Homo sapiens: one gene and its partner. The protein of the gene in region 2 interacts with the protein of the main gene of each other region in a biochemical or structural test. Each region holds a gene or a part of one and is shown on either strand. Other genes may lie near its edges. The genes, in order: PEX12 and PEX10.

Region 1 (4,578 bases), on a different chromosome or scaffold from region 2:
TGACCTCTTGACCTCAGGTGATCCACCCGCCTCGGCCTCCCAAAGTGCTGGGATTATAGGCGTTCTTATGCCATACGTTTAGTTAACTTTTGGAGTACTTCCATGGGACTATCAATCAAGACATCCTGCCTTCCCCTGGCTAAGAGTGAAAGACAGGGTGGAGAGGGAACTTGAACCAAGAGAGGTCAGTCAAAATTTGTATCACGAGCAGAGTCACAAACAGAAATTGGTGGAAGCTCGTTCACTGCAACAACGTTGCCTGGATAAGAACTTCTAATTCCTGTTAGGCAGTCCCAATAGTATTGTTAAGTTCCTGTTCTTTCAGGGCTGGCTTTACTTATTTTGTGAGCTACTCCATACACTTCTAATAAATTCCGTTTTAGTTTAAATTAGCCTGTTTGTTTCTGTTGCTTGTAACCAAAGATCCCTAAGTGACAAAAATGTTTAATTTCCTGCTTGATTTAGTTGATGCTACCTCTCAACTTTGTATTTTTGCTATTCACTTAAGAAAAGCTTGTACATAACAGTTACTATTAAACAAGCACCTAATATGTATCCAGGTGCTTCATATGGATAAACTATGTCTAGTCTTAAAACTCTGTAAGGTAAAAATCATATATCAATATAATGTCTTTTGGTAGAGTAAAAAACACTTTTTATAACTATAATTAAGGACAATTTGTAAGGTTTTCTCTCCTATTGGAATAACTAAATCCAAACCTTGTTTTTGAGGGTTCTCATTATGCAAACCAATTATTTTTATAACATAAGGGCCTCTAGGGCAGTAAACAATACCTTCTATTCCCAGCTATTTAGCCCAGAGGTGGCACTTCCCAGAGGAAGGGAGGAGAGGTGGAACTCTCATCCAAATTCAATAAGGCTGTGTCAGCCAACTTCAGCGAGACAAAGCTGTACATAACATAAAAGCACTTTACAAACCTTAAGGTAAATCACATTCATTTTGGTATAAAAACGGCATGAAAGGAAACTTTCTGTCAAGTGTCCCCAGTGCATGCTAGTTACAATTCATAAAGCTCCCTCTGCGTTAGTACTGTATTCATATCGCTGGTGGTGACATATACAACTGTGTTCAAGGATGGAGACCATTTTCATCCAGTATAGCAAGTGCATGCAGTTATGCTTGAATATAGCCAAAACCTGGAAGACGTTAAACTACCAGCTTGGATGAAAATTAACCGTCTCAAGTACTGAGGAACAAGCATGAACCTTTCTCAATCCAATCATCTTTCCTTATAATTGGCGGCAATAAATCTAAGGCTCCTATCTCCTGCTATGTCGCTTTAAATCATTTCTGGAAGGCTAAGACATATAAATTAACCACCATCCCTGCCGCACGCGTACAGCAAAGTCCTTTCCACCTCCAGATTCCCTTCCTCCCACCGCCCCTAGCTTCATCGCCTGCAGGAACACAGGGCTCAGCAACGGGCCCGAGCTCTGGCTCCCGGCGCCAGACGTCTGCGCGGTGCCCCAAACAGCTTGTCAAAAAGACCTCGCAGAGAGAGGTTCAGAGCTGTAGCTTTCCAGCGAGGCTACCATGCAGACCCAGCTACGAAAAGTAAACCAAACTAGCCAAAACCAGCCCACAAGGGCCCTCTTCTGTTTCAGCGGGGCGGGAGCGGAAGCTCAGGTGGGTCATAGAGTTCTCTAGTTCTGGTTTCCGGACCGCATTCGGAACTAGAGCGCCTCTCTTCCGCCAGGCATCCCAGAGGTCCTGGTGGTTTCATTTCCGGGTGCGGCTTCTGTCATAAAGCGGAGACCTCCCTTCAAACGTGGCGTCGTGGGTTGTTTGCGCCTCGCCTGGGGTCAGCGAGCAAGGACGGGCGCGGGCGGGGATACTCAAAGCCAACAGCTGGAGTCAGCCCTTGTGTCCCGGGCTCACAGTGGCACGACTGAATCCTCAGAGTCGGCTGGCTTTTGAGCTCTCACGATTGGGGAGGAGGGGGCGTTTCTGGTTCGCAGCTCCAGAGGATTGCGTTCCTTCCCCCATACCTGTCCCCCACAGTCACGCTCTGCCCTGACGTGCAGCATTTGACAAGTTACCCCCTCGCCACATACTACTTCCACCCACGTCCGAGTTAACTTTGTTCTTAACCTTCTTGAGACTACCCTCGGCCTCCAGGTCTTTTTTTCCCAGTTCATTTTTGCCCATAAGATTGAGTTTCGAGTTTCAGATATCATGCAGAAAGTTTACCTTTAAGACTGAGCACCCATCTGATACTCTTCCTCCCGAAAAAGTTCATGCTCACGAGAGAGTTTGTGGGAAAAGTGAAAGCCAGTACACGCAGGAAACTATGGCTGAGCACGGGGCTCACTTCACAGCTGCTTCTGTGGCCGATGACCAGCCATCCATCTTTGAGGTGGTAGCACAGGACAGTTTAATGACAGCAGTGAGACCCGCTCTTCAGCATGTGGTCAAGGTAAGGTATTAATTCTTGGAAAGGTTTTAGGGACAACTGGGTAAAAAACAAACGAATAATTTGTGCTTATTTGGTAGCCTAGCGTTTGAAATAGCCAATTTGCAAATAACTTGTATCCCATGACTTAAGAGTTACTGAGTCTCTGTTATGTGTAGAGACCTGTACTGAATACCCAGCATTTCAGGGTCCAACAGTGACTTATTTAAAACAAATTGTGTAGACTTTAGAGGAAAAGGGGGAATGTAAATAGGTGTAGAACTTGTGTAATGGAATGAATTTCACTTATTGCTTTATTTTGCTTTAGGTTCTTGCAGAATCAAATCCCACCCACTATGGCTTCTTGTGGAGGTGGTTTGATGAAATCTTTACTCTGCTAGATCTTCTGCTCCAGCAACATTATCTGTCTAGAACCAGTGCCTCATTTTCTGAAAACTTTTACGGCTTAAAGAGAATTGTAATGGGGGACACTCACAAGTCTCAGAGATTGGCTAGTGCTGGTCTCCCAAAGCAGCAGCTTTGGAAATCTATTATGTTCCTGGTTCTTCTTCCCTATCTGAAAGTGAAGCTGGAGAAGCTGGTTTCTAGCCTGAGAGAAGAGGATGAATATTCTATTCATCCCCCTTCTTCCCGCTGGAAACGATTTTACAGAGCTTTCCTGGCAGCCTACCCATTTGTGAACATGGCCTGGGAAGGATGGTTTCTTGTACAACAACTTCGATACATCCTAGGAAAAGCTCAGCATCACTCACCACTGCTGAGGCTGGCTGGAGTTCAGCTAGGTCGACTGACAGTTCAGGATATACAAGCTCTGGAGCACAAACCAGCTAAGGCCAGCATGATGCAGCAACCAGCCAGGAGGTAAGGCCTTAACATTTCCAAAAGATCTTTAGTTAGTAAATTCGAAAATCGTATCCCAGTTTTGTAAAATTCACCTCCCTGTTAACTTTGTGGCATTTCATAGAGTCATAGAAAAGCTATTCCTTGTGTCCATAAAACAAGGACTGTCATCCTGGTAACCTTCATCATTCTAGGTATACTTTAGTGCATACTTGCTATGTCCCAGGCCCTGTGCTAGGTGCTTGCTTTACGTACATTATCTCAATCCTCAACACAACCCAATGAAGTAAATGTATTAGCTCACAGTTGAGGAAACTAAACCCAAGCAGTTAAGTACCTTGCCAAAGTCACGTAGGTACATAGAAGGTGGCAGAGCTGGGATTCAAACCAAACCAATACAATTCTAAAGACTGTGCTCTGTGAGCCACTGCACCCAGCCTAAGACTGTGCTCTTAATCATGATGCTGTGCTCCTTCTAGTTCATATTTGTGTTCTCCTACAAGTTCAAATATATACATTCCTCAATACTGCTAAGTTTTTTATTAAGTGAATTGGGTTTTTTTTTTTTTTTCTGGATCACTATCTTCCACTAAAAAAAGGGAGGTCTATATAATCAAATTCTCTGATTTATCTTTCAAAACACAAAACCAAACCCTAATCATGTTACTAAAAACAAAGCTTAGCTCCTATGCTCCTAAAATATTGTAAGTTAGAATCACTTAGAATAGATCCTTAAGGAGATAGTACCAGTCTACCAACCATTCAGTCCCCCAGTGATTCTGATGAAAAATGTAAGAATTGCATTTATATTAGTCACTTTGTAATGATACCTAAATAAAGTTTCTCTCTTTGCCTCCTTGTTCTTTTCTCCCAACAGTGTTAGTGAGAAGATAAACTCAGCTCTGAAGAAAGCTGTTGGGGGTGTTGCCTTATCCCTGTCTACTGGCCTTTCTGTGGGTGTATTCTTCTTGCAGTTCCTTGACTGGTGGTACTCATCTGAAAATCAAGAAACCATCAAGTCATTGACTGCCCTGCCTACTCCACCACCACCTGTACACCTAGACTATAACTCTGATTCTCCCCTCTTACCCAAAATGAAGACTGTGTGCCCACTGTGTCGTAAAACCCGGGTGAATGATACTGTTCTTGCCACCTCTGGCTATGTGTTTTGTTACCGCTGTGTGTTTCATTATGTGAGGAGTCACCAAGCTTGTCCCATCACAGGTTATCCAACAGAAGTACAACATCTGATTAAACTCTACTCCCCTGAGAACTGAAAGGGAATCATGTCTTATCCTCACAA
Region 2 (3,361 bases):
CTGTACGGTTTCAGGCAGCGGCAGCGAGCCAGGAAGGAGTGGAGGCTGCACCGCGGCCTGTCTCACCGCAGGTGCGTGCGGGGGCCACACATGGGGGCTGGGGGTGTCCTGGGCACTTCACAAGGACCTGTAAGGTGCACCCACCTTGACGCTCTGCCCCACCTTCCCCAGGGCCTCCTTGGAGGAGAGAGCCGTTTCCAGAAACCCCCTGTGCACCCTGTGCCTGGAGGAGCGCAGGCACCCAACAGCCACGCCCTGCGGCCACCTGTTCTGCTGGGAGTGCATCACCGCGTGGTGCAGCAGCAAGGTGAGGTGGGAGCCTGCTGCCGTCCTGGGGTGGTCAGCGGCTGTGCCGGCAAGATGCACCTGGCTGCAGCAGAAGTGGGGAGTCTGGCTCTGAGCACCCTCCAGTTTTGAGGGTACAGAGGTGGGCATCTTTTTAAAGGCTCCCAGGTAGGTCAGATGTGGGTTCGTTGAGGGGGTTAAAGTTCCAAATTCACGTGTATTGAGGCTTTGCCGAATGCAGGTTGGGGTAGTGGCCAGCCCTGAAAGGCCCCACGCTTGCACCACGCATCCCAGCACACCCTTCCTCCCGGGGTCCTCACCACACTTGAAAACCCTAGCACACTGACTCACACCCACCGAAGATGCCGGCAGGGTGAGAGCGCACGCTTTCCCAGGAGCTGGGCTTCGTGGGCTGTGTCAGCTGCGGGAGCAGGAGGGAACCTCCCGGCCGAGCCCCACACCCTGAGCCCTACGCCCCCAGCCCCGCCCCAGCCCCCACTGGGACTCGGCCTTCTGAAAAAAGGCTGGCTTTCTTGGTCATTAGTTGAAGGAAATACAACATTTATGTTGTGTGTCATGTGCAGAGAATGTGGACAGGAAAAGAAATGCCGATGGGGATGGGCATGGCCCAGTGGCCCCAGCTGCTGTGACCCCCTTTCTCCTCTCCGCAGGCGGAGTGTCCCCTCTGCCGGGAGAAGTTCCCTCCCCAGAAGCTCATCTACCTTCGGCACTACCGCTGAGCCGGCGCCCGGGTGGGCCTGGACACAGATGACCTCTACGGGAGTCTGAACGCCAAGATTTAGTCTCAGGATTAACCTTGCTTGCACAGAAGTTAGAACACTCTCAGTTTTTTGTCATGTAAGATACTAACCTAGCCACCCTGGGAGAGAACAGAAAGCTGTCCCTGGCTGCGCTTTCTCAGCCCTGGGAGGGGCGCCTGAACCCAGAACATTTCCCTAACCCCAACCTGGTAGGACTCAGCCACTTCTTCAGGAATTTCACTTATTTGGACGGGATTTTAGGTTTCCCTCCCTTCCCCAAACCATACAGTTGAGAAGTAATTCAGAAGTAGGCCAGAAGACACTTTATTCGTTTATATTGTGAGAAAACAGCCCCATCAGGCTTGTGTTAAGGCAATGGACTGAATGAGTGCGTGCTGGGTGGGGTGGGGCACGGAGGCTGGCGGGTTGCTTCAGCCAGTGCAGTGAGAACAGCAGCCCCACGGCCCCATGGGAGGCGGCGCTGCTCTCCCCGAGGGCGGCTGGGCAGAGCACATCCCCCAGGACTTGATGACCACACGGGGCAGAGAGAAACCAACCAAGGCCAGCACCTCCGTCGGAAGCATTTGGCACACACACCTTCAATACACGTCAAGGTCGCTTCCAGTTTTAGAAAACAGAAATCTGCATCTCAGCCTGAGACGCACAGAGAGGTCTCTTCCTGACCCAGACGCACTCACGAGCCAGGTCCTGGGGGTATGGGGGCTGCCAGGGGCGCCCGAGCCCTCTCCTGGGGGGCCTGCTGGGCAGGCGACCTGCTGACCCACGGTCACTGCTGTGTTCAGCCCCTCAGCTCGGCCCCAGCCTATTTCCCGCCTCCATTTGATGTTTCCAGGTTTTCAAAACTGCATTTAACCTGCGCCAGAGAGTTCACCGTAGGCATCTTTAATAAACTAACTCCAGCAAAATGTGGGTACGTTACTAACACAAGATGGAACTTGAGATTTCCTGAAGCGCAGTGTTAAAATGCCTCGAGGGCGTGTGCCACATTTCCCTGCTGACGTAAAACACCTGGCCAGCAGGACCGGCTTCCGGCAAAGACCCGCGCAAACCATGTCTTGCTGTTTGACTTACTTAGGAATGAGGATGACCCTGTATTCCTGGGTTAGTCAAGGTCAGCTTGCCAGAGACGGAGGAGGGCGGGGGGGCCGTGACCCTCTAGACTGGGAGGACCACCAGGAGAGGCACTGGGGGCTGCGGCCGGGTGGGCAGATGCCGCCGTGGCTCCATCCATCAGCACCCAGTCCTTTGCTTCACTGTGCTCTGGCCAAGCGCGTGCGACTTCCTGTCACACCTTAGGCCTGAGCGCTTATTAAGAAAACAGTATGAAAAATGACAAACACTCCTGTCCACAGTCTGAGAATCCCAAGTGTCTCAACACGGTACCAGAAGTACCACCTGGGAGCAGCACTGGCTATCTTGGGTCAGGGACACACAAGCTTGAACGTGGCCTCTTAGAGGAGCTCGATGTCAGATATGTAAACACTGGTACAAGAAAATCCAGACACTAAGCATTCACCGTGTCAATTCTGAGACAGGAAACACCGCCCAGAGTGAGGAGCCTGCGCAGCCCGGGGCCCAGGAGGAGAGGCCTTCACTCGCATGTCAGTGTCTCATCTGGGACCACAGCTGTGATGTTCTGCTGTGCAATATGGGTCACCTTTCGAAAAGGCCAAACAAAAGGTGGGCTTTCCTGTGTCCAGCGACTGCCATGTTTTAGGTAAAGACTTTAGTAAAGGTGGAGGTAAAATCACTTGGTAAAACGTTGAGAGTATTTCTTTTCTCGAATCAAAAACGCTGACATGCAAGTGGGTTCCGCCTCTCCCGCAGTGGGGGGCCGAGTGCTGAACCTACAAAGCCAGTCTGCTCCCTGCCAGCTTCGCTGCCCCTCATGGAGGGTTGCATGAGGACAGATTTAAATTAAAAACAAAACACTCTACGTATCAAAGAAATGTGTCAAAATAATCTCAAACAATTAAAATATAATATATATTTATAATTCCGGGCCCTCAAAAGCAATCATGGTAGTTAAGAACCAAGTTTTGAGTCATTAGGATAGAGGCCAACTTTAAACATCTCCAGTGAGATGGAATTAGGAAACTGGCATTAGAACCCCACACAGTTACTTGACAATCACCTTTAAAACGTTAAGTTCTTTCGGACACGCAGGAATCAGGCTAGATCATCCCTCGGGCTCTGTGGAGTGGCTGGCACCACCTGCGGCTGCTGGGGAAGGCGGCTGGCGGGGAGCGGCCCGTTCCTCCCTCGCAGGCCTTGCTCCTGCCTGCCCACCTGGC

What was found.
Region 1: the proteins of PEX10 (region 2) and PEX12 form a complex in vitro, tested with the Homo sapiens proteins (one study listed by BioGRID).

Annotation. Positions count from the first base shown.
Region 1 is NC_000017.11:35,575,756-35,580,333, reverse strand, and holds the start of PEX12 (peroxisome assembly protein 12), read left to right. Parts: upstream 1-1,762; 5' UTR 1,763-2,312; coding exon 2,313-2,438; intron 2,439-2,742; coding exon 2,743-3,296; intron 3,297-4,152; coding exon 4,153-4,552; 3' UTR 4,553-4,578. UniProt on the Homo sapiens protein: Component of a retrotranslocation channel required for peroxisome organization by mediating export of the PEX5 receptor from peroxisomes to the cytosol, thereby promoting PEX5 recycling.
Region 2 is NC_000001.11:2,403,430-2,406,790, reverse strand, and holds the end of PEX10 (peroxisome biogenesis factor 10), read left to right. Parts: coding exon 1-71; intron 72-171; coding exon 172-307; intron 308-956; coding exon 957-1,025; 3' UTR 1,026-2,817; downstream 2,818-3,361.